Linked DNA regions of Homo sapiens. The protein of the gene in region 1 purifies or fractionates together with the protein of each later gene. This does not show direct contact. Each region holds a gene or a part of one and is shown in the gene's direction. Other genes may lie near its edges. The genes, in order: DOT1L, DDX31, PLEKHS1, DIMT1, RFC3, POLDIP3 and SRP9.

Evidence for each region.
Region 2: the proteins of DOT1L (region 1) and DDX31 purify together in Homo sapiens (affinity purification with mass spectrometry, with the first as the bait; one study listed by BioGRID). This does not show direct contact.
Region 3: the proteins of DOT1L (region 1) and PLEKHS1 purify together in Homo sapiens (affinity purification with mass spectrometry, with the first as the bait; one study listed by BioGRID). This does not show direct contact.
Region 4: the proteins of DOT1L (region 1) and DIMT1 purify together in Homo sapiens (affinity purification with mass spectrometry, with the first as the bait; one study listed by BioGRID). This does not show direct contact.
Region 5: the proteins of DOT1L (region 1) and RFC3 purify together in Homo sapiens (affinity purification with mass spectrometry, with the first as the bait; one study listed by BioGRID). This does not show direct contact.
Region 6: the proteins of DOT1L (region 1) and POLDIP3 purify together in Homo sapiens (affinity purification with mass spectrometry, with the first as the bait; one study listed by BioGRID). This does not show direct contact.
Region 7: the proteins of DOT1L (region 1) and SRP9 purify together in Homo sapiens (affinity purification with mass spectrometry, with the first as the bait; one study listed by BioGRID). This does not show direct contact.

What each region holds. Positions count from the first base shown.
Region 1 is NC_000019.10:2,229,189-2,233,086, forward strand, and holds the end of DOT1L (histone-lysine N-methyltransferase, H3 lysine-79 specific), read left to right. Parts: exon of another isoform or gene 1-596; coding exon 597-604; 3' UTR 605-974; coding exon of another isoform or gene 975-1,424; 3' UTR 1,425-3,390; downstream 3,391-3,898. Other genes in the region: PLEKHJ1 (pleckstrin homology domain-containing family J member 1), read right to left, coding at 975-1,424. UniProt on the Homo sapiens protein: Histone methyltransferase. Methylates 'Lys-79' of histone H3. Nucleosomes are preferred as substrate compared to free histones. Binds to DNA.
Region 2 is NC_000009.12:132,662,882-132,667,133, reverse strand, and holds part of DDX31 (ATP-dependent DNA helicase DDX31), read left to right. Parts: intron 1-3,716; exon of another isoform or gene 3,717-3,762; intron 3,763-3,807; exon of another isoform or gene 3,808-3,909; coding exon of another isoform or gene 3,910-3,912; intron 3,913-4,252. UniProt on the Homo sapiens protein: May have DNA helicase activity and RNA helicase activity. Probably have ssDNA and RNA dependent ATPase activity. Plays a role in ribosome biogenesis and TP53/p53 regulation through its interaction with NPM1.
Region 3 is NC_000010.11:113,757,787-113,762,038, forward strand, and holds part of PLEKHS1 (pleckstrin homology domain-containing family S member 1), read left to right. Parts: intron 1-4,252.
Region 4 is NC_000005.10:62,400,887-62,405,666, reverse strand, and holds the start of DIMT1 (dimethyladenosine transferase), read left to right. Parts: upstream 1-1,761; 5' UTR 1,762-1,894; coding exon 1,895-1,973; intron 1,974-2,320; coding exon 2,321-2,394; intron 2,395-3,544; coding exon 3,545-3,631; intron 3,632-4,780. UniProt on the Homo sapiens protein: Specifically dimethylates two adjacent adenosines in the loop of a conserved hairpin near the 3'-end of 18S rRNA in the 40S particle.
Region 5 is NC_000013.11:33,827,646-33,831,897, forward strand, and holds part of RFC3 (replication factor C subunit 3), read left to right. Parts: intron 1-2,190; coding exon 2,191-2,372; intron 2,373-3,073; coding exon 3,074-3,210; intron 3,211-3,610; coding exon 3,611-3,709; intron 3,710-4,252. UniProt on the Homo sapiens protein: Subunit of the replication factor C (RFC) complex which acts during elongation of primed DNA templates by DNA polymerases delta and epsilon, and is necessary for ATP-dependent loading of proliferating cell nuclear antigen (PCNA) onto primed DNA.
Region 6 is NC_000022.11:42,583,611-42,587,862, reverse strand, and holds the end of POLDIP3 (polymerase delta-interacting protein 3), read left to right. Parts: intron 1-290; coding exon 291-357; intron 358-1,894; coding exon 1,895-2,072; 3' UTR 2,073-4,142; downstream 4,143-4,252. UniProt on the Homo sapiens protein: Is involved in regulation of translation. Is preferentially associated with CBC-bound spliced mRNA-protein complexes during the pioneer round of mRNA translation. Contributes to enhanced translational efficiency of spliced over nonspliced mRNAs.
Region 7 is NC_000001.11:225,784,164-225,788,415, forward strand, and holds part of SRP9 (signal recognition particle 9 kDa protein), read left to right. Parts: intron 1-2,698; coding exon of another isoform or gene 2,699-2,806; exon of another isoform or gene 2,807-2,822; intron 2,823-4,252. UniProt on the Homo sapiens protein: Component of the signal recognition particle (SRP) complex, a ribonucleoprotein complex that mediates the cotranslational targeting of secretory and membrane proteins to the endoplasmic reticulum (ER).

The sequences.
Region 1 (3,898 bases):
CTGTTCACTCCTCCCCCAAGAGGCTGTGGAGACTGTGGCCGCTGACCCCTGAGGGCAGTTGGCCACCCGTGCCCTCCAGGGACATGGCGTGCCTGGCGGCGTAGTGCAAAGGTGCCCTCTGCTTGCCCCTGGCCTTCTGCCTCAGGGGCCCCTGGGACACAGGCCTTCCTGGGCGAGTCCAAAGCCCACCGGGCAAGGAGAGGAGGACTGGGAGCCAGGAGCCAAGGCGGAGGCTGTGGCCAGGGCTGGTCAGCCTGGCGGGTCAATGCGGGCACCTGCGGGCTGGACAAGCTATGCTGGGTCTCTTAGGAGATGAGCTGCAGGTAGGGTGGCTTTAGCTGGACTCGGCTGTGTGTCTCCTTTGGAGGAAGGCTGGAGCTTGGCCGGCGTGTCCAGGTGTCAGGCTCCCTGGTCTGTCACGGGGCACGCCCGTCGTCTGTTGTGGTTAGAGGAGCTGGCACTATGCCTGTCATGGTGCTGGCCCCAGGTGGCGTGTGTGCTCGTGGGAGGCCTCGGTCCCCAGCCTGGGTGAGTGTTGGGCTCCCCCAGGCGCGATGGTAACCTCAGGCCGCTCTTCCCGCTGTGCCCTTCTGCAGGTAACTAGGATTTCTACCTCAACCGCGAGACCTATGCAAGGACGGTGTGGACCAACTCGCGCCCGCGGCATGGTGCCCGCCGGCCTGCCGGGCTCCCACCCCTGGACGGCAGAGGCAAGGACGGACGGGAGCTCCACTGTGAATCGGCGGCACGCGCCGCAGGAGGCTGGGACTGGTCCAGTTTGTACTGTCGATAGTTTTAGATAAAGTATTTATCATTTTTTAAAAAGTATAAACAATTCTGACTTATTTTATTCCATCTAAGTGGTAAAAGGCAACTTATTGAGAAATATAAATATCTATATATGAGAGCTCTATATAAAGACACGTGTCTGCAGGGCGGGCCCGCCAGCGGATTCGCCACAGCCTGCCCCGGTGCTATCTCGTCCCCAGGCCCGCGCCTGCCTCCACCCGCTTGGTGCTGACTAGACGCTGACAACGCCGAACCCCGTTCTCGGAAACGCCGCCCGGCCGGCTCCCCCGACGCGCTGCTCCCGTACCAAAGGCAGGCCCGTCGCCACCACATTCCTCGGAGGCCTCCCCGCGGCCTGAGCCCCTTCCTGAGCGCCCTGGCGCCTGCCCTGAGCTCTTCACCTTTACCCCGGCACTGTGAACCCCCAGACTGTTCACCCTCCGGGGCGTGGGTTGCGCCCTTGCATGTGAAGGGGCCTGCGCGGTGACGCAGCTGGCCATGTGCTGCGCGATGGTGCTGTGAGGACGGCGCGGGCACGTTGAACAAGTGCATTTACTTTTGTATTTCTCGGCTGTCCATGGCTCGCAGCATGCCCTGCGATGCGGGGCAGGCCTGTCGTGGGTCCCTTGGTGTTTCTGTACAGGAGAGAGTCACACTAATGAGTGGCAGTATTTTATAGAGATGTGATGAGAATTTATAAATTTCATAGATTTGACAGCTTTTATTTTTAGATGGTATAATGCACAGTGAAGAGGAAAGAAAAGCGAGGGGAAAAAACCTTATTTATTCAAACAGTGCACAAAATGGCCCCAGCGTCAGCCCCGACCCTAGACCCCTCAGTTGCAGCTCCCAGCAGCCCAGACAGAGCTGCCGGCGCCCCTGCCTGCCCCACATCCCTTCCTGTCAGGGCCACGCCTGGCACCCATCCCTTGGAGCCTGTGCTGGTTCTCCCAGCTGCTGTGGGTGTGCTGGGGCCAGGGTGCACTGCTGAAACCTGGCCTCTCTGGCCCTAGGCCCCAGGGTGACGTCGGCCCCCCACTCTGCAGCCTTGGCGGGTGCCTGGGACTGGGTGTGGAAGGAGAGGAGCTGAGGCCGGGGTGTAGCAGGCAGGCAGGGCCACTCCAGTGCTTCTGGAGCCCTGAGCAGTCAGGGCCTGGGTTGTCTGAGCAGTGGTGGCTCTGTGCCCTCCCTGGAGGATGGGATCTGGGAGTCTGAGCTCCCCGCATCTGGCCCTGGGCTGTGTGGCACTTGCTGAGCCCACCTTCTCAAGTGCTTGCTCCTGTGAGATGGCATCGGGGAGCCCCTTCCCCAAGGTGCCACAGATCCACCCTCCAGGGAGCTGCCAGCCCTGTGTTCTGGTTCCCAAGGGCAGGATGGACACACGTCACATCCCTACCACGTGGCCTCCAAAGGGAGCCACGGAGGAAAGGCTTCTGTGGTTGCTAGGTGGGGGAGTCCTGTGTGGGAGGGCCTGAAGACCCCTGCTTGTGCCTGGTGAGGGGGGTGCTGCCTCCCCCAGCCCCCAACAACCTCTCAGACCCCCACCCTCCAACATAGCTGAGTTCTGAAGATGGTGCTCCGGACCTGTCCTCTTAAGTGGTGCCCAGTGCCCTCCCCACCCCACGTTGGTGCTCTCAGCTAGAAGGTGCTGTGCCTCTGCCTGAGCCCCAAGCCCCGAGCCTGGCCTTCAGGACAGGCAGCCTGCTCTGTGTCGCCACGGGCCGGATACGCCACAGGGTTGATGGCAGAGACGGCCGAGTCCCTGGTCTAGAACAAGACACATTCTTTAAACACTGTATTACTTCTGCCTCCCTCTAGGTGACAGTGGCAGTCCGGGTGCCATCACGGGTCCTGCAGATGGCCATGCAGGGCTCCTGCCCACGCAGGCCACCGTATGTTCAGGACACGCACTGGGTCTCAGAGCCACTGGCCCAGGCAGAAGTCTCCTTGAGCCCACTGGGTCATATGCGTGTCACCACACGTGAACTAGTGTGGTGGCTGCCTGCGGACACCCTCCTGTTCTGAGCCCTGGGCCTGTGTTCTTCTCAGACACTCCCAGACTGAGGGGTGGTGTGTGGCGGGTGGCAGGGTGGCTGTGGAGACTGGGGATCTGGAGCCTGGTGCTGGCACCTGGCCTGAGTTTCCGTGGGCAGCTGGCGGGGACCTGTGCTGCTGCTGCTGACTGTGGGTGGGCGGGCGGCGCCTGGGAGTGGCTCTTGCTCAGGAATTGATAGGAACCCTAAAAACTAGGATACCCCCTCCTCGGCCCATGAGGCACGCACAGTGACTTATTTAAGACTTCCCCCTTAATTTATCTGCCCCCAGGATGCGTCAGTCTGTTCAGTGGTCAGCAGGCCCCCCACCCCCCGCCGACTGCCCTCGCCATCGTGGTCAGACCCCCCTCCCAACACAACACGCTGCTGGTCTGTGTCAGCCTTTGTAACGTGGGAGGCTCTGCCGTGTCTTCCGGGTGAACTGTATTTGGATTGCGCGCATTGTCACGGTCCGCCCCTGGGCTGCAGGCGCCCCTTCCTCTGGGCACCCCTGCATTCTGCATCCCCACCTCTAGACGCTGTAATAAACAGACTGTTTTCACTCGGACCTGGTGTGAATGGCAGCCTTTCTTCCAGGTGGCATGAGGCGTCTCCTGGCGGCCAGTGAGAGGCCCCGGCTAGTGTGTCATCGCCGAAACGGGGAGTGGAGGGCCTAGGGGTGCTCCTAGCAGAAGCTCCGGGGGCTGACACCAGGACACCCTGGCCTTGGGGAGGCTTATGAGGGCACCAGGCCACAGGCAAGGGGAGGCTTATGAGGGCACCAGGCCACAGGCAAAGTGCCTTTTGATGAACGGAAAACCAGATCTGCGACCCCAATGACATCGGCAAAGTCCTTTTCACATCAGATGGACCAAAGCCCGCCCAGGCCCCAGCCACACTCCGGGAGGGCCCGTGAATGCCAGAGGCAGGACCCCAGGTCACCACAGGATTCCTGATACCACACAGCAGCTCTGTTCTCCCCAGGCCTGGGTCCCAGCCTCCACCTGTCCTGGCTGGGGGTTCTAGCTCTCCCCTCAGTGCAGGAGGCCCAGCCACTGCCTCTCAGGACCCTGAGC
Region 2 (4,252 bases), on another chromosome or scaffold:
CTCACACCTGTAATCTCATCACTTTGGGAGGCCGAGGCAGGCAGATCACTTGAGGTCAGGAGTTGGAGACCAGCCTGGCCAACACGGTGAAACCCCATCTCTACTAAAAATACAAAAAAAAGGCTTGGCGCAGTGGCTCACGCCTGTAATCCCAGCACTTTGGGAGGCCGAGGCCGGTGGATCACGAGGTCAGGAGATCGAGACCATCCTGGCTAACACAGTGAAACCCCGTCTCTATTAAAAATACAAAAAATTAGCCGGGTGTGGTGGCTGGTGGTGGGTGACTATAGTCCAAGCCACTCGGGAGGCTGAGGCAGGACAATGCTGTGAACCCAGGAGGCGGAGCTTGCAGTGAGCCGAGATTGCGCCACTGCACTCCAGCCTGGGCGACAGAGCGAGACTCTGTCTCAAAAAAAAAAAACAAAAACAAAAAACAAACACAAAAATAGCTGGGTGTGGTGGTGGGTGCCTGTGATCCCAGCCACTCGGGAGGCTGAGGCACGAGAATCACTTGAACCCAGGAACCAGTGGAGGTTGCAGTGAGCAGAGATCACTGCACTCCAGCTGGGGTGACAGTGTGAGACTGTCTCAAAACAAAAGCAAAACAAAAAAAAATTTCTGATATTAATACAAATTTATTATAGAAAATTAGGAAAAAAGATTTTTAAAAACCCACTCATAATTGCCATACTCAGACAATGCTTGTTGCCATTTTGGTGTATGTCCTTTTAGAGAACAACTCAAAATTGGAATCACTACACATGATGTTTTCTTTTTTTTTTTTAACTTATCAAAAATTAAGAATTATTATGAAGCTCTATTTCTTCAGACAGTCTGGAATAAGGTGCAAAACTGTACAAATTGACCAGCAAAGGAGAAAAGAGAGCCCAGAAGCAGACCAATACAAAAATGGAAATTTTATTCATGACCGAGATGACACTGCAAATTGCTTAGGAAAAGCTGACATTTTTAATAAGTGGCACTGGAACAATTGGTTGTGTGGTTGTGTGAATTTAAAAACTGAAATTGGAACCTTATCTCGCACTATGTATAAAAAACCAAATCCATGTGGATTAAGACTATACAAGGCAAAACTATAATGTTGAGCAGAAAGAGTAAGTTTCCAGCATACACATGTTTTCTAAAGCAAAGAGGATGCAGTTAATAAAAGGGATTATAGTATTGTTGTGAGGCCTCTAGAATGTAGAATCATGATGCCTGGGGAAAGCCTGGTTCCTTCAGTGATTCTGGGACAAATTACGTCACATCTCTGCCTCCATGTTTGCATCTTAAAATGAGATGATAACAGTACCTGTGTTGATAAATGAGAGAATACATGTGAGTACTTAGTATACTCCTTGGCATATAGTAACTACTCAGTATGTTTATTAATATCAAAGCCATGGCATCTTAGACTCTCAGGTCTTGATGGGCCCTAGAGGTCATCTGCCAAAATCCCCTCATTTTACAGGTGCGGCAACAGAGACTCAAACGAATTTTTTAGTAGATTTTTAGTAGATTTTAGATTTTTAGTAGTAATTTTTAGTAGATTCAGATATGTCCTTGCTCCCTCTCTGCTCAGAGGCTACCTCACGAAGCATTCTTGGTTTTCTTGCCTCCCTCTCCTTTGCCAGAAGGAGGCCATGTTAGTCTAGCTTTTGTTGGTGCTCTCATAGCCTTTTTTATGTACCTCTTCTGTAGCACCAATGTAGAGGTTGGATTTATGCCTTTATACTTTTGTCTCCTCTGCTAGTGTGTAACTTCCTCAAGGGCTTGGCAAATCTACTTTGTATCTTCAGAACGAAGCTTCTTGACAACTGCTAAATGAATGTGTTTTGGATGCTGGGGGAGAAAAGCTAACAAGTAGTAGAACCGTATCCAGCTGGTGGAAAGGGATAATTCCATTGTGTGTTATTCATTCATCTTACAAGTATTTGTTGAGTGCTTACTCTGCCAGACAGGGGCCTATACAGGGGATACAGTGCTATGTAGGACAGACTGGCCCCTTTCTTGTGGAGCTTACAATCTAACGGGAAAGACAGACATAAAACAACGAGTTCCGTGCTATGCTTATTATTTTGTCGAATGCTATGGAGGAGAATACGGGTGCCAGGAGAGCCAAGAACAGAGCACCTTGGCTTGACTGGGTGAAGAGAGGTCAGGAAAGGCTCTTCTGAGGAAGGAGTTGGTCAGCCTCCATCTGAAGGATGAGTACAGGGTGGCCAGCCAGAGGGCAGAGTGGAGTCCTGGATGTGGGAGTAGCATGTGCAAAGGAGGAGGAAGGAGCACAGCACATTCTAGGAACTGAAGGAAGACCCGAGTGGCAGAGAGTAAAGCTGAAGCTGGTGAGGTGGCCAGAGGTCAGATTCTAGAAGGCTTTGTTGATCATATTACAGTTTTTTTTTTTTTTTTTTTTTGAGCGAGGGTCTTACTCTGTCACCCAGGCTGGAGAGCAGTGGCATCATGGCGTCATCACGACTCAATCCAGCCTTGACCTCCCGGGCTCAGGTGATGCCCCCAACTTAGCCTCCAGGTAGCTGGGACTACAGACATGCACCACCATGCCCAGCTAATTTTTGTATTTTTTTGTAGAGACAGGGTTTCACCATATTGCCCAGGCTGGTCTCGAACTCCTGGCCTCAAGCAATCAGCTCACCTCAGCCTCACAAAGTGCTGGGATTACAGGCATGATCCATGGCACCTGGCAATATTACAGATTTTTTAGTTCAGCCTAAGAGCAATGGAAAACCTAATGGGTTTAACTCTGAGTACTTGCTTTTAGAGAGATGTTGACATAGGAATAAAGGGTGACCAAGATGATAAAGGATCTAAAGTTGTGTCCTGTTTGAAATATTGAGTCCAAAGAAGAAAGAAAAGAGAGTTATGTGATATATGAAGGAATGTTATGTGTTAAGAGGAAGTAAGCTTGTTCTGTGTTGCTGCAGAAAGTATACCTCAGACTATTAGGTAGATGTTCAAGGATGCAGATCTTGCATAAATGTCAGAGACAGCTTCCTGATTCCTAGAATGGGTCATGAACAGAATGGGCTGCCTCATGGGATGCAGGAGGTGTGCAGGGAGAGGCTGCCAGTCCACCTGCCCGGGACTGTCAGGAAGTCCATGTATGGCGGGAGTGGCCTTTAAGAGTTTTTGTGCTCCAGGAGTCCTGGGTCTGTAAATCAGGTGAAGTCTGCACATTTCATACTGTCTTGCAAATGATTCAACAAACCTGAAACTTGATTTCATCTCTTTCTTTAATCTGAAAATTCATAAACTTGAGATTTTGTAAAAAATAAATTTGTAAGATGGAATATGTCCGTTTTTACTTTATTAATATTAGATATTTGAAGTTGTATTTAATTACTTAGGTAAAAGAATCCTTAGGGAACAAAGAACTGTTGTTATTGGTAGGTTAGTCTGAAGCTGACAGTCATGGCTAAAGAAAGCCGACATGTAAAACCAAGTCATTATTTCAAGCAAAGAGGAAAATAACATATTCTGAGAGAACCCAAAACTCCAGAATAACAAGCACTGGCTACTCAAGGGATGCTTTTATATTCATTTGTAAATCAGAAAAGAAGGCCAAAGAAAATAGAGGAATTGGATGTTCCTTCTCCTAGGGGAAGTTTGGACATCATGCATTTAAGCACATTCCTGTAATGGAAATAAGAAGCAACAGGCAAGAGATCCCTAGTGCTGTGTAGCCTGTAATCCGCAATCAGGCAGAGACTCGGGGACTCAGAGACTCGAAAGGCAAGGGAGGTAGGAAGTAATTGTGGTAGAGGTGATGGATGGAGCAGCATTCTCATTTGGAATGGGAACAGGGCGTAGGAATTTTCTCCAGGCCGTCTGAATCTGGAGGAGCAGCTTGAGAGGAGAGAATGAGAGAGATCCAGGCGCTAGGGTAGAATGGTAATGAATGTTTCCGCTTCCTGGGCACGGGCTGAGATGCGCATTCCCCCTCGCCCCTCTCTCCTGTGCGGTCTCCAGTGTGCTTTGTTGGTGGAGAGAAAAGATTCGTTTTCCCCCACCCCTCTTTTCTCCTTGGGTGAATGGGTTCCTAGGAATATGGATTGACACACCCTTCACAAGGTGGATTCTTGCTTCCCTTAAAACAGACTCCATTAGTTAACATTCAACTGGAAAAATGCTGCTTCTTCATCCTTACCTTATCTTGATTGATTTAACAGTTAAGAATGGCTGGTGAGGTCTGGTAGATGAGTGAGCTGAGACTTTTTTCTTTTTTCTTTTC
Region 3 (4,252 bases), on another chromosome or scaffold:
AAACCCTGACACTGATTTATCAACTAAGTTTATGTAATATTTTAAATCCTTTATTGTGATTTCAAAAATAAACAGCATGTTCACCAGCTGTAGATTCCATCTCAAGAAAACACTTTCTTTTCATATCCCGTAAGAAGCAGCTCCTCATCTGTTGAAGTTTGATCATGAGATTGCAGCAATTCAGTCACATCTTCAGGGTTCACTTCTAATTCTAGTTCTCTTGTTATTTTCACCACATCTGCAGTGACTTCCTCCACTGAAGGAAGTTTTGAACCCCTCAAAGTCATCGAGGAGTATTGGAATCCACTTCCTCCAGACTCCTGTTGATGTTGATATTTTGACCTCCTTCTAGGAATCATGAATATTTTTATGACATCTAGAATGGTGAATCCTTTCCAGAAGGTTTTCAATTAACTTTGCCCAGATCCATCAGAGGAATCACGATCTACAACAGCTATAGCCTTATGAAATGTATTTCTTAAATAATAAGACTTAAAAGTTGAAATTACTCCTTGATCTAGGGGCTACAGAATAGATGTTGTGTTAGCAGGCATGTAAACAGCATTAGTCTCCTTGTACATCTCCATCAGAGCTCTTGGGTGACCAGGTGTATTGTCAATGATCAGTAATATTTTGAAAGGAATCTTTTTTTTTCTAAGTAGCAGGTCTCTGCAGTGGGCTTCTAGAAATATTCATTAAACCATGTTATAAACAGATATGCTGTCACCCAGGCTTTGTTGTTGCACTGATAGAGCACAAGTAGAGTAGATTTAGTATAATTCTTAAGGGCCTTAGGATTTTCTAGCTTTTAATTGAAAGTGAGAGACATGTAACTCACCTTTCACTTGACACTCGCCTTCACTTAGAGGCCATTGTAAAGTTATTAATTGGCCTAATTTCAATATTGTTGAGTCTCATTGAATAGGGAGGTCCAAGGAGAGGAGAGAGATGGGGGAATAGCCAGTCAGTGGAGCAATCAGAACACACACAACATTTTTGAAGTTCACCATCTTATATGGGCACCATTCATACTGTCCCAAAACAATTACTCAAAGATCACTCATTGCTGGTCACTCTAATAGATATGATGATGATGAAAATGTTTGAGATATTGCAAGAATTGCCAAAATGTGACACAGAGACACTAAGTAAGCATATGCTCTTGAAAAAATGGTCCCAGTAGACTTGCTCAGTGCAGGGTTGCCATAAACCTTCAATTTGTAAATAAAAAAAAAAGCAATATATGCAAAGCACAATAAAGTGAAGTGCAACAAAATGAGGTCTGCCTGTATTTGATATGTGTGACACCTGGGAAATCATCAAGATGGTAAATGTGGCCGGGTGCGGTGGCTCACGCCTGTAATCCTAGCACTTTGGAAGGCTGAGGTGGGCAGATCACTTGAGGTCAGGAGTTCAAGACCAGCCTGGCCAACATGGTGAAGCCCCATCTCTACTAAAAATACAAATATTAGCCAGGTGTGATGGCCGGCACCTGTAATCCCAGCTACTCAGGAGGCTGAGGCAAGAGAATCACCTGAACTGGGAGGCAGAGGTTGCAGTGAGCCAAGATCATACCACTGCACTCCAGCCTGGGTAATAGTAAACACACTCATCACTCTTGATGTTTTCTTGTGCCTGTTTGTAATCCTTTTCTGCACACCCAATCCCAGTCCCCATTGTTCTGTTTTCTCTCACTGTAAGTTTGTTTGTATTTATTAGAGTTTAACATAAATGGAATCATACAGCATACACCCTTTTGTCTGACTTTTTTCACTCAGCATAATTTTTTAAAAATATATCCCTGGTATTGAGTGCACCAATAGTGCAAAAATAGTTCATTTTTTTGATGAGTAGTATTCCATTATATGGATGTACTACAATTTGTTGATTCATTCACCTGTTGAATATCCAGGTTGCTTCCAGTCTTCGCCTATTATAAAGCTAATATGAACATTTGTGCATTAATTTTTGTAAAATCATATATTTCTTTATTTTACCTAGAATCAAAATGGCTGGGTCATATGGTTGGAGTATGCTTACTTTTCATTCAAATTTGTTAGATTTTTTAAAAAGCTTTATTGAGGTATAATTGACATACAGTAGGCTGACATGTTTAAAGTCTACAATTTAATAAGTTTTGGCAAATGTACACAGCCATAAAATTATCACCTAAATCAGGATAATAAGCATATTCATCAACCTCACAAGTTTTCTTGGTCCCCTGCCTCCCACTCTTCCATGCAGTCATACTTCCCCAGACAACCCCTGATCTGCTTTCTATCCCTATATGTTAGTTTGTATAGAACTTTATATAATCATGCAGTATGAACACTTTCTGTCTGACATCTTTTTCACTCAGCATAATTATCTTGAGATTTACCCATGTCGTTGCATCTGTCAATAGTTTGTTTCTTTTTATTCCCATATAGTATTCCATTGTATAGATGTATCACAATGTGTTAATCCTTTCACCTGTTGATGAACATCAGGGTTGCTTCCAGTCTTTGGCTATTACAAATAAAGCTGCTATCAACATTCATGACCAGCTTTTGTATTTGTATATTCCTTTACTTAAGAGTAGAATGGGCCAGGTGTGGTGGCTCACGCCTATAATCCCAGTACTTTGGGAGGCCAAGGCAGTAGTATTGCTTGAGCACATGAGTTCCAGACCAACCTGGGCTACATCTCAAAAAAAAAAGAAAAAAGTTATAGCCATCCTAGTGAGCATGAAGTGGTTTCTTATTTTAATTTTGATCTACATTTCCTTAATGACTAAATGTATTGCACAGCTTTTCTTGTGCTTATTGGCTATTTGCTTATTTTCTTTAGAAGAATGTCTGTTCAAGTTCTTTGTTCACTTTTTAGTTGAGTTGTTTGTCTTTTTGTGTTGCATTGTAAGAGTTCTTTATATATTCTGGATAGTAGGCCCTGGTCAGATATATGATTTTTGAATATTTTATCCCATTCTGTAGGTAGTCTTTTCACTTTCTTAATAATATCCTTTGATGCACAAAAGTTTTTAATTTTGATGAAGTCTAGTTTATCTTTTTTGTTTGTTGCTTGTGCTTTTGGTATCATATCTAAGAATACATTGTCAAATCCAAGATTATAAAAATTTACACCTATGTTTTCTACTAAAAGTTTTATGGTTTTAGCTCTCATGTTAAGGTCATTTATTTGAGTTAACTTCATTATTTGGGATGACATAGGGGTCCAAATTCATTCTTTTGCATGTGAATACTCAGTTGGCCCAGCACCATTTATTGAAAAGACTGTTCTCTCCCCATTGAATGGCCGTGACCACTAATGTATGGGTTTGTTTCTGGACTCTGAATTCTATTCCATTGGCCTATGTGTCTTATCTGTCCTTATACCAAAACGACACTCTTGATTATTGTAGCTTTGTAGTAAGTTTTGAAATTGGGAAGTGTGTGTACTCTTTGTTCTTCTTGAAGATTATTTTGGATATTCAGGGCCCCTTGGTATTTTTGATGATTTTGAGGATTAGCTTTTCTAGTTTTACAAGATAAAAAATGCCATTGGGATTTTAATAGAGATTGCATTGAATTTATAGATTGCTTTAGGTAGTATTTATATCTTAACAGTATTAAGTCTTTCAATTCATAAATATGGAATGTTTTCCCATTAATTTATGTCTCTTTATTTCAGCAATTTTTCTAGTTTGCAGTGTACCAGTCTTTTTATCTGCCTAGTTAAATTTAACCCTAGGTACTTTTTTCTTTTGGATGCTATTGTAAATGGAACTGTTTTCATAATTTTATTTTTGGATTATTTATTGCTGGTTTATAGAAATATAGCTAATTTTTGTCTGTTGTTCTTGAATACTGCTGAATTTATTAGCTCTAGTAGTTTTTGGGGATTCTTTGGGATTTTTAACATATGAGATTATGTCACTTGCAAATAGAAATGATTTTATTTCATTCTTTTCCATTTGGATGTTTTATTTATTTTTACTTATTTTGGATGCATTTTTTAATGTTTTAAATAAGTTTGCTAAGAGTTTTCAATCAAGAAGAGTAATGCTAGCCTCATAGAATGAGTTGAGAAATATTCCCTTCTCTTCAATTTTTTTGGGAGGCTTTGTGTAGAATTGATTATTTCTTGCTTACATGTTTGATCAAAGAGAACAGTACAGCCACTTGGGCCTATATGAAGAATTTTTAACTACAACTCCAATTTCTTTAATAACTATAGGAGGCTATTCAGGTTATCTATTTCTTCTTCAGTGACC
Region 4 (4,780 bases), on another chromosome or scaffold:
GTATCATGCTGTCGCCCAGGTTGGTGCAATCTTGGCTCACTACAAATTCTCGGGCTCAAGTGAGGCTCCCACCTCAGCTTCCCGAGTAGCTGAGACTACAGGCCTGCACCACCACGCCTGGCTAATTTTTGTATTTTTTGTAGAGACGGGGTCTCACTTTGTTGCCCAGGTTGATCTCAAACTTCTCAGCTCAAGTGATCCGCTCGCCTTGGCCTCTCAAAGTGCTGGGATTACAGGCATGAGCCACCTCTCCAGGCCATGTCCATCCTATTAACATTTGGAAGTGCCTAGCACAGTGTACTCTTTAGAATTGTGGAATAACAATGATTGATGAAATGAAACATATACTTGAAGATGCTACTAGGGTATACGAGATTTTTTTTCTGACTTAGAACTACATCAAAGAAAGAAGGGCCTAAGACCAAGGTTTGGGAATGTACACAATGAATTGCTCAAAAGAGAGTTAGCTTTAGTAATGACAGGAAGAAGCTATTTCTTCAACCAAACAGAATACACACAGAAAAATTTAAAAGAGCCATTACACTGGCTGGCAAAACAGATGTGGATATTATGGCCCTGGTACACACGGAGTTTATAGTCAGGTACACTGTCCTGTCACAACGACCAATACGTTATCGTATTTACAGCGTTTTGGAGTTTCTGTCCATCTCTGTCAATATAATACACTTTGAAATAAGTTTCTTACTTAGAATCCCTAGCAGTGTTTGATACACAGTTGGAGCTCAATAAATGTTTACGGAGTGAATGATGAGGCACAAAAGGAATTTGTTGAATTATTTGTTAAATGAATCAAATAATTTTCTAGGATTCACGGGCTGTCTTCTGCACGATAAGCTTCATTCTGTGGGTCTGAGTTTCTCCTGGTTCTCAATTCTGTCTTTTTGTGGATTATCTACTTTGTAGCTGGAGCTTTGTATCTGTTTAAGATAATTATTCTTCTATTCCTTTTTTTTTTTTTTTTTTTTTGAGACGGAGTCTCGCTCTGCCGCCCAGGCTGGAGTGCAGTAGCGCGATCTCGGCTCACTGCAACCTCCGCCTCCTGGGTTCACGCCACTCTCCTGCCTCAGTCTCCCAAGTAGCTGAGACTACAGGCGCCCACCACCACGCCCGGCTAATTTTTTGTATTTTTAGTAGAGACGGGGTTTCCCCGTGTTAGCCAGGATGGTCTCGATCTCCTGACCTTGTGATCCGCCCGCCTCTGCCTCCCAGAGTGCTGGGATTACAGGCGTGAGCCTCCGCGCCCGGCTCTTCTATTCTTAGTAGAAGCAACCAGTAGCCCTAGCGAAACCAGACGTTAATTCCATTCTCGCAGTTCTTTTCCCCAGGGCAAGCAGCAAAAAATGCATTCCCACAAAAGAGCAAGCTCATCCCCAAATCCCGGGTTTCCCACCCCCACAAGCTTCAGGAAAACAGGAGCGAGGCACGTGAATACTTCTTTGGACCTCAGCGATCCCAGAACCTAGGCTACTAAAACATCCATAGGCTTAACCTCATCATATAACTTAAACAGCCTTCGCAACACCGAGAGCACCACACCAACACCTTCTTATCCAGCCCTGGTTGGGACAAGGGCTCCAACTCCAGACTGCAGTCCTCGGTAGCGCGGTGTCTTCTGGGATCTGTAGGCTCCCGCGGTTCGGCCTTCCTCCCTCTGTGACTCCAATTCCCGGCAGTCAGTGGGCTCCAAGGTCCGCCCTTTTTCTGGAGGAGGAGCTCAGAGCGTACGGGAGGGGGCGGACCCTTGCCCCTCCGGCGCTTGGGCCAGAGTGGTGCGGGCGGCGCGTGGCGGCGATCCCCACGTGGTGGCTTTCTCACGCTAGCCCTCTTTGGTCCTCCTTGACGTCCCGGGCCTGTGGGCCCGCTTTCTGCCGAGATGCCGAAGGTCAAGTCGGGGGCCATCGGCCGCCGCCGCGGGCGGCAGGAGCAGCGCCGGGAGCTGAAGAGCGCTGGAGGTGCGGATCCCCGCGAGGAAGCTGGGGTCGGTCGGGTCAGGTCTTCCGGCAGGACCTAGCCTGGGGTGCGGACCAAGACCTGATCGGCAGAGGCCGGTCAGGACGCGCTCCCGTGAGCGCGGAAGGCAGGGGTGGGTCCCCGACTCGGCCGCAGGCCCTGCGCGTCGCCGCTGACTTCCTTTCCAGCTGGAGGATGAACTTATAAAGAGTTTGTCAGTCCTGGCGTGACGTTTCGTGGCCCTGGTTGGCGCAGAAATCTTCCCCATACCCATGCAGCTTTCTTCTCTGGTACTGCCTAATATCTAATCTCAGTAGGAAAATTAATGCTGTTTCGTATTTTCTTACAGGACTCATGTTCAACACGGGGATTGGGCAGCACATTTTGAAAAATCCTCTCATTATTAACAGCATTATCGATAAGGTGGGTGTGGAAGAGGAAAGGGAGAGAGTTGTTGGTTTATTAATTTTATTCCTATGAATACATAAGCGCAGAAAGTCTGCCTGCCGTAAATTAGATGCTCTGTAAATATTTGTTGAATGAATCAAATAATTGTCTAGGATTCTTGGGCTGTCTTCTGCATGATAAGCTTCATTTTGTGGGTCTGAGTTTCTCCTGGTTCCCAATTCTGTGTCTTTTTGTGGATTATCTACTTTATAGCTGGACCTTTGTATTTGTTCAAGATAATTATTCTTCTATTTCTAATCACCTTTTTGATCACTTAGTTTTTATGTACTCCATCTATTTATGTCTAAACTACACATTAGAAAGTTTGTTCCCCAGAAAAACATATAGTACTACATATAAATTATTTGGTGTATGCTAGTACCACATATAAATTGCTTGGAGTATTACTGCTTTCTGAGTTATTGATGTTCTCTTATGGTTATGGATGATTGGGTGTTAGGAAGTGAAATACACACGGTGCAGATTACACTTATGGTTAAAAGCAAGGAAAGCATCCTGGAGCTGTAGAAAGAGCATTACATAGTTAAAGGATCTTGTCAGGCTTCGTGTCATTTGAAAACTGAGAAAAAAAGAAAGAAGGGTCATGTACTATTTTAACCTTTTTAGCTCATAGTTTCCTTTGAGCATCTGATGAAAGCTATGGCCGTAGAATATTAGAGCTGTGTGCAGACATTCAATTTTGTGTACAGTTTCTGCTCTTCTGCATCCTTGAAACCATACATGGGTTGAAAATTGAAAAATCTTCGCCCAACACGTACAGTCCTTTCCCATTTGAACTTGTTGATACGAACAGAGAAGGTAACAAGAGGCTATTGGAATATTTCCAGATAGAAAGCAGAATGCCAATCCCAGAAATGCTGTTGCTGCTTTTCTGACTCCTAAAGTTGAACAGTATTCCTCCAAGTTAGGAGAGGTCTTAGATTTTCATTTGCACCAAATGTTATTGAGGTAATTTTGTTAACCACGTAGATCATGAAGAAATCTAAAAATGGAGTCAGATTAAGAGCTCTTATCGGAGCACATATGAGTAAAGATGTTCAGGTGTAAATTAACTTCTGTGTTCTGATGTTGCCAGAAGAGCTAAAGTGTTTGTGCTTGCTTTTAGGCTGCCTTAAGACCAACTGATGTAGTGCTGGAAGTTGGACCTGGAACTGGCAACATGACTGTAAAGTTGTTAGAAAAGGCAAAAAAGGTAGAAAGGGGATTTAATGTTTGGTATCACAAATGACTATGTTAGCAAGCTCAGTTGGTTTACAATCTAAATATGTTTTAACTAATTGCTATTATTTTAGTAGTAACTCCTGATCCCTTGTTGGAAATTTTGTCTTAGAAAATATGAGATATTTCAGCCAGGCGCGGTGGCTCACGCCTGTAATCCCAGCACTTTGGGAGGCCGAGGCAGGTGGATCATGAGGTCAAGAGATTGAGACCATCCTGGGCAATATGGTGAAACCCCATCTCAACTAAAAATACAAAAATTAGCCGAGTGTGGTGGCAGGTGCCTGTAGTCCCAGCTACTTGGGAGGCTGGGGCAGGAGAATCACTTGAACCCGGAAGGCAGAGGTTGCAGTGAGCCAGGATTGCACCACTGCACTCCAGCCTGGTGACAGAGTGAGACTCTGTCTCAAAAAAAAAAAAAAAAAAAAAGGAAAATATGAGATATTTCAGTGAGGAAAACAGAAACCACATTAGGTATTTCAACAGGGAATTTTTTTTTTTTTTTTTTTTTTTTGGAGAGGGAATTTCACACTGTTCCCCAGGCTGGAGTGCAGAGATGCAGTCCTGGCTCACAGCAACCTCTGCCTCCTGGGTTCAAGAGATTCTCCTGCCTCAGCCTCCCCAGTAGCTGAGATTATAGGCACCTGCCCCCACACCAGCTAATTTTTGTATTTTTAGTAGAGATGCGGTTTCACCATGTTGGCCACACTGGTCTTAAACTCCTGACCTCAGGTGATCCGCCAACTTTGGCTTCCCAAAGTGCTGGGATTACAGGCATGAACCACCATGCCCAGCCTCAACAGGGAGTTTAATTAGGAAGGAAATACCCAACGCCTCCCCTTTGTACCCTATAATGCTGGTGCCTTTCACTGGCCAATTCCAACCAGAAGTTGAAAGGTAAGGGAGCTGAACTGCATTATCTGTAGGATGCAGAGAAAAGCGGATAATAGATCTGGGAGGGCCTTTCATGGTGGCTCACACCTGTAATCCCAGCACTTTGGGAGGCTAAGGCGGGTGGATGGCTTGAGCCTAGGAGTTGAAGACCAGCCTGGGCAACATGGTGAAACCCCATCTCTACAAAAAATTGGCTGGGCATGGTGGTGCCTGACTGTAGCCCTGGCTA
Region 5 (4,252 bases), on another chromosome or scaffold:
ATTCTTACATGAAGCTTACTGTTACTTAAAAAGAACAATAACTATGAATTAAGTAACAGTTTAGGAAATAATTTGTCTCTTTCATATCCATAAAGATGTTATTCTGCTCCTCTGCTCGTCTTTCTTGCATAACTGTTGAAATTTGGCCATGATCCTTTTGTGTTGGTCATTTTGTTAAAAGTAAAGTGATTTTTCCTGTACTTAGGGAAGGAGAGGAAGGCCAGAGAGTTTTTTTTAGGTCTGGGGCTCTACAGCTACCTCTTGTATTATTTTTACAAAGTGATAAAAAATATATGACACTTTACTTAAGGCCAGGAAATTGAGACCAACAAGACCCGATCTTGCCAAAGGAAGAAAAAAAAAAAATTAGGCTCATGCCTGTAGTCTTAGCTACTTGGGAGCTGAGGTGGGAAGATTGCTTGAACCCAGGAGTTTGGGATTGCAGTGAGCCATGATCAAGCTACTGCACTCCCGCCTGGGTGACAGAGTGAGACCCTGTCTCTAAAAAAATAAAATAAAAAAATAAAGTAAATAAATGACCTTGTGTTCTGAGCTCTATTCCCTATCTTATTTTCTGTCACCTTTATTGGGATTCTTTCCTTTGTCTCTCTTTTACCTGTTCTCAATTTGGTCTGGGATTTCTTCTCATTGTGGAGCATTGTCTTAGTCTGGAACTCCTGTCCTCAAGCCATCTTCCTAGCTCGGCTACCCACAGTGCTGGGATTACAGGCACAAGCCACTGCACCAGCCACAGCCACCTGGAACACTGTCTTAGAAGGGAACTTCATTTTGGTATTCTCAGAGTCTGCTGTTCTGTCAAACCTTACTGCATCAGGGTTCCCTTGCTCTCACCCATAAATTGGGCTCTGTCGAATCTCCCCCCTCGGTAAGACTGCTGCTTTCTTTGAGACAGTGTCTCACTGTGTGGCAACAGGCTGGAGTGCAGCGGTGCCATCAGAGCTTACTGCAGCCTTGACCTCCTGGGCTCAAGTAATCCTCCCACTTCAGTCTCCTGGGACTACAGGCACACACCACCATGCCCGGCAATGTTTTGTATTTTTGTAGACATGGGGTTTTGCTATGTTGCCCAGGCTAGTGTTGAATTCTTGGGCTCAAGGGATCTGCCTTCCTCAGCCTCCCAAAATGTTGGGATTACAGGCAGATTACAGGCATGAGCCACTGTGCCTGGCCAACTGCTGCTTTCAAATTGGCCGCACCATGGTTTCTAGTATGTTCCCGTGGGTGATTTTGAGCTTTTCCTGTCATAAAGTCTGTCAAAATCTTCCTCCCACACCGTTGCTGATACTATGTGGGCCTTTCCAGTTTTAGTTGCTTATTCTCACTTGCTCATGTTTGGGGTTCTTGGGTAAAGCTTGTTGCCTGGTTTCTGTATAATGTTCATGGGTTCTTTGTTTTGGAATCTTTAGTTGTTCTGTTTATTTTTATGGGGCAGATCTAAATGCTACATGCTGCCAGTTCATCTTCTAGAAATAATTTGTTAATATAATGAAAAATACAATATTGGATTCAGTTTCTGTGTATACATTATTCCTGAACTATGTTAAGGCTGATCTGTGATTGTGGCCAGATGGAATCTTACTTTATGGTGGCCAGATATCCTCATGCCTTGTTGCCTACATCTCTTGCACCACTGTCTTCCAAAGTCTATTCCTTGGAATTTAATATTTTAGATTAAGGTGTACCACAGAAATGTGCTGCTGAGTAAAGTTATTTTGGGGAAATGCAGCACAGTACTTCCTTGTCTTGGTAAATTTTAGCGCATATAAATAATAAAGGTTGCAATGATTTCTACTACAAAGTGACCTTTTAACTTCATTTAGCCTAGTGTTTCTTGGTCTTGTTTGATTATAGATTCTTTTCTTTTTTTTACTAGCCCTGCCAACGCAAGGTCTCACAATATTAAAAACTCAGAGCTGTTCCTCTCTATAGAAGTCTTTAGTAAAAGGCAAAATATTTATATGATCTGAAGAGAAACTGGAGTATGATTGTAGCATTTTAAAATAATAAAGTAATTTTACCATACTTATAACTTTATCTTTGCCAATGGGAAGAGTAGTATATCAGGCTTATTATTTAGGATTTCATCCTGGATAATGAGAAGGAAGAAAGAGACAAGTTAAAGTTTGAGTGAACTCAAGTTAAAGTTTGTTTTGTTTCTCTTTGACTCAGTGGTATTATTGACAGAAGTTGACAAACTCACCAAAGATGCTCAGCATGCCTTGCGAAGAACCATGGAAAAATATATGTCTACCTGCAGATTGATCTTGTGCTGCAATTCTACATCTAAAGTGATCCCACCTATTCGTAGTAGGTGCTTGGCGGTTCGTGTGCCTGCTCCCAGCATTGAAGATGTAGGTCAAGTTACACTTTTCTGAAAAATAAATCAGTTCAGATTCTCTGAATATTGTATGCTTGTTGTAAAAGAAGGGAATCGTATCAGTAATTTAAGAACACCTACAGACCTGGATGCAAAGCATTAATATGTGAACAAACCAAAGCGTATAGTTGTAAATACCAGATGCCAATATATAGAAAGTGTTTTTCCCTTTAAACCATCTTTACTTTGAACAAGTAGGTATTACGAATTCTACTAAACTAGGTAAGGGCTAGTTATTTACTGTCTTCTTTCTCAAGCTGATTTAGTTGGCTATAAGAGGAGGCTGGAATATTGAGGAAACAGATTTTGCAAAGAGATGATGTGGGAATACCTAGTCCCTAGGAAGGGAATTAAAGTTAGTATGAAATAACATTAATATGAATATATATACATAGATATATTTTTTTCTCCATTCTTAACAGCCATCAGCAAAAATTATGATTCCTCACATTAAATATCTTTCCAGCTTTTAATAGATTTTGGGAGATTTCATGCAAAGTAGGGATAATATGCAACATTGTGTTAGATGCAGAGTGGTAAGTTACTTTTAGTGTAAGTTTCACTTATAAGAATTTTGAGAGTAATACAGTTATAAGGGTCTAGGAGGATATCAACAGAAATGAATCTTAATCTGCTTTTTAATGGATTGCCCATTTTTGTTAATTTTATTTGTAGATTTGCCACGTGTTATCTACTGTGTGTAAGAAGGAAGGTCTGAATCTTCCTTCACAACTGGCTCATAGACTTGCAGAGAAGTCTTGTAGAAATCTCAGAAAAGCCCTGCTTATGTGTGAAGCCTGCAGAGTGCAACAGTGAGTGGAAGGGGTAGTTACATTCTAGGACTTTGGCCCCCAAGCTTTTTGGCACCAGGGACCAGTTTTGTGGAAGACAATTTTTCCATGGACTGGGCAGGGGTGGGGGATGGTTTCAGGATGAAATTGTTCCACCTCAGATTATTAAGCATTAGATTTTCATTTGGAGCGTAGATCCCTTGCATAAGCAGTTCACAATACGGTTCACGCTCCTATCAGAAGCTAATAACATCACTGGTCCGACAGGAGGTGGAACTCAGGCCATAATGCTGGCCTATCCGCTGCTCACTCCTGCTGTGCAGCCCGGTTCCTAACCGCACGGACCAGTGGTTGGGGACTCCTGTTTTAGGACATAAGCACACTTCTGTTTAACTTCTTGTGTTCTCTTTTTGTCATGTAGATATCCTTTTACTGCAGATCAAGAAATCCCTGAGACAGATTGGGAGGTGTATCTGAGGGAGACTGCAAATGCTATTGTCAGTCAGCAAACTCCACAAAGGTACCAGTATAAAATGATGACAGTAAAGCTTTCATTATCAGGATATCATAGGACACATATTAACTATTTTATGCTAATGTCATTTTGAATTATAATTAAATCCTGAATCTATGTATTAACTTTTTAAGGAAAATGTAGCATTTAACTTCAGAAATTTAGTGGTTCAGAATAGTTGGTGTGTGATATTATGGCTTTTATTAAGCTGTAATATCATGGCTTACATGTGATCATGTAAAAGTGGAATTTATATTAATTTTAATTTTCCTTTTAGGATCTCAGATTACTTAACATTAACATACAACACAAAGCTAGAGATAATGTGCGTAGCTTTCTAGTAAAGGACAATGTAAAACTTTGTAATCAATGATGCATCATGTGCTAGAAAGACACCAGACTATAAGTCAGACTTCTAGTTCTTGTCCTGAACTCCTAGCTAAGTGTTCTTGATCAGGTAACTTCATTTTAGAGTTTTATCTTCATTTGTATATTGAAGATATTATTATTGCCTCACCAAGGGTACTTTTGCATTTGTTGTGAAGAGCA
Region 6 (4,252 bases), on another chromosome or scaffold:
GCTTCACATTGAGTCTCGTTTCTCCCTCACTTCCCACTCATCTCTTCCTGTATGAAGCAAGGTTTGTGGCCACTTTGCCTCTTGGTGCTCCACTGCTGAGGTTTCCTCACGCCCTGGGATTTTCTTAGTGTCTGGCTTGACTGGAACCTAGCAGCCCCATCTCCATCTGTGGAGCCAGAACTGCCAGTGGTGGGTGCTTTGACCATTGATAATGGAGGTACAGCCCTTGTCCTCTTGTGTGAGGAGCCGAGGTCTCATAGCAGAGCCTTTTTCTTTCTTTGGTTTTTCAGGGCAGCCGATGAAGTGCAACCTTCACATGAATGGGAATGTTATCACCTCAGACCAGCCCATCCTGCTGTGAGTTCCAAAGGCGGGGTGCTGGGGAGAGGCAGCTCCGTCCATCTCTTTTTGTTCTAATGGGTAAACTGCCTGCATCACAGCTCCCCTTCATCCCCCCATTCCGTTTCCTCTGTTCTAATGGCAGCTGGCCGTTTCATATGCTTAAACTTGACCAAAATGGTTTGCTTTGTTATTTCCCCAGGGCTTGACCCTATAGGGACTAGCATTATGATCTCGTTCTCAGCTTTCTGATTTAGAAATATCTGAGTGGAAGTTGGAGGGGGAGGCTGCTTGGGTCTCCTAGCTGTGTGCATCATCCCGGGAACAGAGAACTCCACTGCATGATTGGCTCTGATGGAGACAGTGCCAGATGCTACCCCTTATTTTGTTCCCCAGTGAGGTTTTTTGTTTGTTTGTTTGTTTGTTTGTTTTTTGCTTTTTCAGTTATTTTGAGAGTCTCACTGTGTTGCCCAGGTTGGTTTCAAACTCCTGGGGTCAAGCAACCCTCTCCCCTCAGCCTCCTGAGGACCTGGGACTATAGGCGCACACCATCACGCCCAGCTGGATTTGGCTTTTAAGTACAGTGGGAAGCCATTGAAGGCTTTTGTTGCACACAGCTGAGTATACATGCCTGGCCCAGGACTGAGGGATGTTTTGAAGCCTGAGATGCATAAAATGTTGAGACTGTGAGGACTTCACCTTCTAGATAAGGAAGCAGATACCAGGGAGGAGGTTAGACTTGCCAGGGTGAGTGGGATAGTGTGGGGCAGGGCTGAAATAGACTTTGAGATTTAAAAAGACTAGGATTTGAACCCTGGGTAATGAATTATGTGATTTGGATAAGTTCTTAAACTGTGTTCAAGGAATAAGAAATATTTCTTAGGGTTTTGTAACCTAATAAGTTTGGGAACTACTGGGCTAAACAGAGTTACATCTGTTTCACTTTCGGGCTTCTCAGATTGTGTAATATGCTAATGGATGTTACCATCCAGAAGGAACATGCAGTGTTTCCTAAACTTAAAACCACAATTAGCCAGGTGTGGTGGCATGCACCTATAGTCCCAGTTACTTGGGGGGCCGAGGTGGGAGGATCGCTTGAGCCTGGAAGATCGAGACTAGTGAGCCATCATCATGCCACTGCACTTCAGCCTGGGTGACAGAGTGAGATTCTGTCTCAAAAAAACCCCACAAAACCCTAGAACATACAGCACTGCCTGCGTCTCCATTTTCTCATCAGTAAATAAGAAAAACACAGCCTGGGCCACATAGCAAGACCTGGTCTCTACAAAAAATTTTAAAAATGAGCCAGGCATGGTGGTACACGCCTGTAGTCCTAGCTCCTTAGGAGGCTGTGGCAGGAGAACTGCTTGAGCCTAGGAGATGGAGGCTGATGTGAGCTGTGATTGAGTTTGCTGCGAGGTGGAATGAGATGAAGGGGTATGGAAAGTGTTACACCCAGTGCCTAGCTCATGACAGATGCCCAGTAAATGGTGGGTCCCCTCCCCATCTAAGGAAAAACTGACAAGAATTTTTGACTCTTCTCTGCTCTCCACAGGCGGCTGAGTGACAGCCCATCAATGAAAAAGGAGAGCGAGCTGCCTCGCAGGGTGAACTCTGCCTCCTCCTCCAACCCCCCTGCCGAAGTGGACCCTGACACCATCCTGAAGGCACTCTTCAAGTCCTCAGGGGCCTCTGTGACCACGCAGCCCACAGAATTCAAAATCAAGCTTTGAGCAGGGGAGTGAGGCAGCCAGAAGTGGGGGCAGAGGAGGGTGGCTCTGTTTCCCCAAGGCAAAGCTTATGACCAATGGGCCATCGGACTGGAGACCCCTGATTGTGGGAAGGGTTGCCAGGGATAAAGAGCTTCCTCACTGGATGGGACCCGCCTTTCTGTGTTGTGTTCTGCCCTGTGCTCTTCTCTCTACGTTAACGTTTCCTGTAGTATGTTTCTTCATCTCATCGCCAAGGTAGGCTTGTGTTTTTCAGTGTGTGCCTCCCCGAGCCTCAGCCCCAAGCTGATTTCTTATCTGGAAATGGTACACTGAATTCTCTGGGTGGCTTTCTTGTGGCCCCATGGGATGCAGCGTGGGGGCTGTCTGAAGGACCCTGCTTTTTCCAGGGGCCGAGGGGCTGCCTTTCCTTTGTGTGTATTAAGCTTTTCAAACAATGGAGGGGATGGAGAGCCCTGGTGTCCTGACGGGAGCCAGGTCGGCCTGAGAGCTGTGCCGCTCCTCTGTCTTGTCAGTGGAGGTGCCTGGGTGGGGAGCAGGTCTCAGGCCTCTTGTCCTCTCCCCAGTGGCTCCAGGCCTCACTAGTGGCAAGGGCAGGATGAGGCTGCACCGCTGGGAAGAGTCTATCTAAGCTCTTGGCTTGGAGTCCCGTGTCGTCTCCACCCAGAGGAAGTTCTCCAGAGTTCACCTTTCCCTTTTCCTTGAGTTGTGCTGAATGCCCCACCCCAGCTCTCTTTCCCTTCTGGGTGTCTTTGCTGGGAGGGGGCTGTGTTGTGAGCCCTCCCGGTTCTCACCTCGCCTGGCACTTAACCACACCCTGGTTTTGTGTAGCCGCCAGCTCTCTTCTGGTTGGGCCTTTGAAAGGCTCAGCCTCCCATTGTGCAGTGCTTGGGTTTGGAGCTTATTTGAATGGAAGAGGTCAGTTTGTTCCTGGCTCTCCATTTCTGGCCTCAGTTGTCTACAGGACAGTGGTCAGGGATGCCTGGAGGCATATATCCAGCTGCCACCAAGGGGCACTGTTTGTTCCCACTTATGTGAGTGACCCCATCCATCCATGACCAGAGGATTATTTTCCTGCCTTGGCAGAGGAGGAGGAGTCAAGGGAGCAGGGCAGCTCTACCAGGCAAGGTGTTTCCCCAGCATAGGCGCAGACAGTTGGGACGAAACTTCAGAGCCCAGGCAGTCCCTGAATGACCAGGCCAGTGTTGTCACTGAGTGGTCCCCTGCTGGTTGGGAGTGAAGAGAATCCAGGCTGGCAGAGCTGGAGCCAGTTGGGGAGCACGGTTCTGGGAGCTCTGCAAAATCAGTAGCAAGTGCTGGAAAAGGCACATGCCGAAGATACTCAAGAGCTCCCAAGATTTGCTTGAGGCTAGCCCAGTGAAAAAAACCAGAGACTCATGTTTCCAGGGGTCAGTCTGTCAGGCAGGAAGGACCCAGGATTTGAACCCAGCTTCAGTGTGCAGGCTCTGAGGCTGCCCAGGACGGGAAAGTCCAAGGAAGGGGCCTGGTGGTGCTCCACTTGCAGTTCTTTAAAGAATGCTGCTTTTTATTCTCCTAACCCTTTCAAGTGGGTGCAGACTTCTCGTTAGCAGCTGGAAGACATTCCTCCCACACTTTTCCCTTCCTGGCCCAAGAGAGCATCCAGAAGGCAGTAGGACCTGGTTTTTCAGGTACTGGGAGCCGGGGGCTCACTGCTTGCACTGTGCTTAGGGTAGGGATGGTAAATATCCTCCCTGCATGGCTTTATCCTCCCTCTCATCCCAAAGCAGGTATCTTCTGGTTGTCACAGAGTTTCATTGAGTCCAGCTGCAGCCACGTGGCCATCTGGAGCTGGTGCTATAGGTGACCATCTGGTACATTGAGGGGACCTGTTTGCCTCCTCCACTCTATAAGCAGTCATCTTGGGAGACCGGGAGGAGAAGGTGGTGGGCTAGTCCTGTGTCCTCCTCCACTTCCCATGCCTCTATGTTACCCATCTGTGTCTCCTGTGCAGAAGGAGAGGAAGGGGCATTAAGAGATGAAGGGTGATTATGTATTACTTATCCATTTCTGAATAAACATTTGTTATTCCTACCTTTGAGTTATCTTTTTTTTTTTTTTTTTTTTTTTTTTGAGACAAAGTCTCACTCTGTTGCCAAGGCTGGAGTGCAGTGGCACTATCTCAGCTCACTGCAACCTCCGCA
Region 7 (4,252 bases), on another chromosome or scaffold:
GACTAGCATCTGTATCTCACATACCCTCAAAATTCACTTATCTACAGTGGAGTTTATCACCTGTTCTTTTTTTTTTTTTTTTTTTTTTTTTTTTTTTTTTTGAGACGGAGTCTTGCTCTGTCGCCCAGGCTGGAGTGCAGTGGTGTGATCTCGGCTCACTGCAAGCTCTGCCTCCCGGGTTCATGCCATTCTTCTGCCTCAGCCTCCCGAGTAGCTGGGACTACAGGCACCCACCACCACGCCCAGCTAATTTTTTTTTGTATTTTTAGTAGAGACAGGGTTTCACCATGTTGGCCAGGATGATCTGGATCTCCTGACCTCGTGATCCACCCGTCTCGGCCTCCGAAAATGGTGGGATTACAGGCATGAACCACCCCACCCGGCCTATCATCTGTTCTTAAACTAGCTCTTTCTCATGCCTGTAATCCCAGCATTTTGGAAGGTCAAGTGGGCAGATCACAAGGTCAGGAGATCGAGACCATCCTGGCTAACACGGTGAAACCCCATCTCTACTAAAAATACAAAAAAATTAGCCAGGCATGGTGGCGGGCACCTGTAGTCCCAGCTACTCAGGAGGCTGAGGCAGGAGAATGGCATAAACCTGGGAGGTGGAGCTTGCAGTGAGCAGAGATCGTGCCACTGCACTCCAGCCTGGGTGACACAGCAAGACTCCATCTCAAAAAAACAAACAAAAAAACTAGCTGCTTCTTCTGTTCCTACCTTCCTACCTTTAGTTGCATTATTTTCCACGTGGTCAGAAATCTGGGGATTTTTTTTAATTAAAAAAATTTTTTTAGAGACAGGATATCGCTATGTTGCCCAGGCTGGTCTTGAACTCCTGGCTTCAAGCAGTCCTCCCACTCAGCCTCCCAAGTTGCTGGGATTACACACATGGGCCACAGTGCACAGCCCAGAGTGATTTCTATTTAGACGGAGTCTCGCTCTGTTGCAAGGCTGGAGTGCAGTGGGCGATCTCTGCTCACTGCAGCCTCCACCTCCTGGGTTCAAGTGATTCTCCTGCCTCAGCCTCCTGAGTAGCTGGGACTACAGCCGTGCACCACCACGCCCAACTAATTTTTTTTTTTTTTTTTTTTAGTAGAGACGGGGTTTTCACCATGTTGACCAGGATGGTCTCCATCTCTTTACCTCATGATCCACCCACCTTGGCCTCTGAAAGTGCTGAGATTACAGGGGTGAGCCACTGCGCCTGGCCTTTTCTTTTTATTTGTTTGTTTGTTTGATGGAGTCTCGCTCTGTCGCCCAGGCTGGAGTGCAGTGGCGCAATCTCGGCTCACTGCAAACTGCCTCCTGGGTTCACGCCATTCTCCTGCCTCAGCCTCCTGAGTAGCTGGGACTACAGGCGCCCGCCACCACGCCTGGCTAATTTTGTGTATTTTTAGTAGAGACGGGGTTTCACCCTGTTAGCCAGGATGGTCTCGAACTCCTGACCTCGTGATCTGCCCGCCTTGGCCTCCCAAAGTGTTGGGATTATAGGCGTGAGCCACTGTGCCTGGACTTTTTTTTTTTTTTTTTTTTAAAGAAGGAGTCTGGCTCTATTACCCAGACTGGAGTGCAATGGTTCATTCTTGGCTCACTGCAACCTCTGCCTTCCGGGTTCAAGCAATTCTCCTGCCTCGGCCTCCCAAGTAGGTGGGATTACAGGTGGGCACCACCACACCCAGCTAATTTTTGTATTTTTAGTAGAGATGAGATTTCACCATGTCGCCCAGGCGGCTGGAGTTGAACTCCTGACCTCAAGCGATCCACCCACCTCGGCCTCCCAAAGTGCTGGGATTACAGGTGTGATCCACCACGCCCAGCCCCAGAGTGATTTCTGAAAGGCTAATTTGATTGTTACTCCCTTGCTTAGAAACCTTTAAACTCCACCCTTGCATCCTCTCTAATCTCTGTCATTTCTGTATTATGTAAGAGCTCCTTTAATGTGCTGTGATGTGTTAGGCCTCAGTGCTTTCAAACATTCTGTTTCCTCCTTTGCAATATTGAATCCCACCTCCACCCCTAATGTGGCCAGACTGCTGCTTATCTTTCAAAACCCAACTTGAGGATTACTTCATTTCTTGCTTTTCATTTTGGCTTTTTGTGCTGTATCACAATTCTTTTATCACATTTGTCTTTTTAATAGACTGCCCTTCAAGACAATAGAGATAGATCAGTAATATTCTTACATGTCTTATTTCCATTGCCTACTATGATGTCTTGACCCAGAGAGCACTCAGTAAACATTTTTTAAATAGTTAGTTCTTTTGAAAATTTTATAGAGTGATTTTAAAAATCACTTTTTGTCTTTGGTCATATATTGTATTTGTGTTCAGGGTTCCATTATGATGAGACTGCATGAAGTTAGACCTTTTAGTGATTACCATGTCTTCTAAGAACCAATTGAATGTAGTGAGTAGCTAAACATGTGGAAAAGGAAGAGTGAATCGAGATGTAGTATACTAGACATAGATTGAAGAGATGTGAATCCTAGCTTAGTCATTTACTAGCATTTTGGCCTTGGAAAAGTTTAGGCCAAAAATTTAGCCTTCTGGTCTCAATTTCCTCATCTGTAAAGTATCATAGTGATAGTAAAAAAATATATGAAAGTATCTAACATGAGTGCTTACCCTTGGTAGATTGAGTACATGTATTCTTTTGTTTGTTGATTGGTTGGTTGATTGCTTTTTTTTTTTTTTAGAGACAGTGTCTTGCTCTATTGCTCAGGCTGCAGTGCAGTGGCATGATCATAGCTCACTGCATCCTCGACCTCCTGGGCTCAAGCGGTCCTCTTGCTTCAGCCTCCTGAATAGCAGAGACTACAGGTGTGCACCACCACACTCAGCTAATTTTTAAATTTTTTTGTCAAGACAGGGTCTCATTATATTGCCCAGGTTGATCTGGAACTCCTGGACTCAAGCCATCTTTCTGCCTTAGCCTCCCAAACCACTGGGATTATGGGTGTGAACCACTAAGTACTTCTTAAATCTTGACATTCCACACAGAAAAATTTTAATTGTGATTGTCACAGAGTGGTTAGGTATACTTGCTGAAGAAAAACCCCTATGTCCTGTCTTAAAAATAGGGGAATAGGCCGGGCGCGGTGGCTCGTGCTGGTAATCCCAGCATTTTGGGAGGCTGAGGTGGGCGGATCATGAGGTCAGGAGTTCGAGACCAGCCTGACCAACACAGTGAAACCCCGTCTCTACTAAAAATACAAATATTAGCATGGTGGTGGGTGCCTGTAATCTCAGCTACTTGGGAGGCTGAGGCAGGAGAATCGCTTGAACCTGGGACTGGGAGGCAGAGGTTGCAATGAGCCAAGATTGTGCCACTGCACTCTAGCCTGGGTGACAGAACTAGACTCGGTCTCAAAAAAAATAAAATAAGGGAATAAATGCAGAACGAATTTTAATACAAAAGGCCTTATCTCCAATTGATGGCTCTTTTTGCCCTGTTAATGATTGAATATAATTAAGGATCCATGTTAACTTCGACTTTTTTATAATCCCATGTATCCATCATTTTTCTAATCCCATAATTGATTTAGAATACTGTCTTCTATGGACCTAAAATCTTTTTCTGTCAGAAATTTCAGTGAGAAGGTATGTACATTCTCTCATAGGACATGTGCTAAAATTTTGATGATGAAGATTAATATGGCCTTTTTACAAGATTGCCGCACAAATTTGTACAATGCGTGGATAAAAATTTTTTTAAGTGAGTTGTTTAAAAGGCTCACTTAAAAAAATCAGTTGGGCATGATGAGGTTGAACTTCAAGTTATTTAAGTTGTTGACTTTTATTATAGGATCATTAGTTCCTGTTGTTTAAAACTCATGTGAACCTTTAAGATGGGCTGAAGAAAAGTGGATCTGTACTACAAAATGAGGAAAGGGCTGCCAGCTTAAAGTTGCTGTTTTTGAAGATTCTACAACAGATGGCTTTATGACCAACCATAAGCAGATCTTAAGTATCTAGTGAAGAATTTAACTGCTAACAAGGAAGAATTTGGTTTGATTTAAAAGTAATATCTTCAAGCCTGGGCAACATGGAGAAACCCCGTCTCTACTAAAAATAGAAAAATTAGCTAGGTGTGGTTGTGTGTGCCTGTAGTCCCAGCTACTCAGGAAGCTGAGGATCGCTTGAGCCCAGGACGCAGGTTGCAGTGAGCTGAGATTGCACCACTACACCCCCAACCTGGGCCACAGAGTGAGACACTGTCTCAAAAATACATACCTTCAGCAAATCAAGAT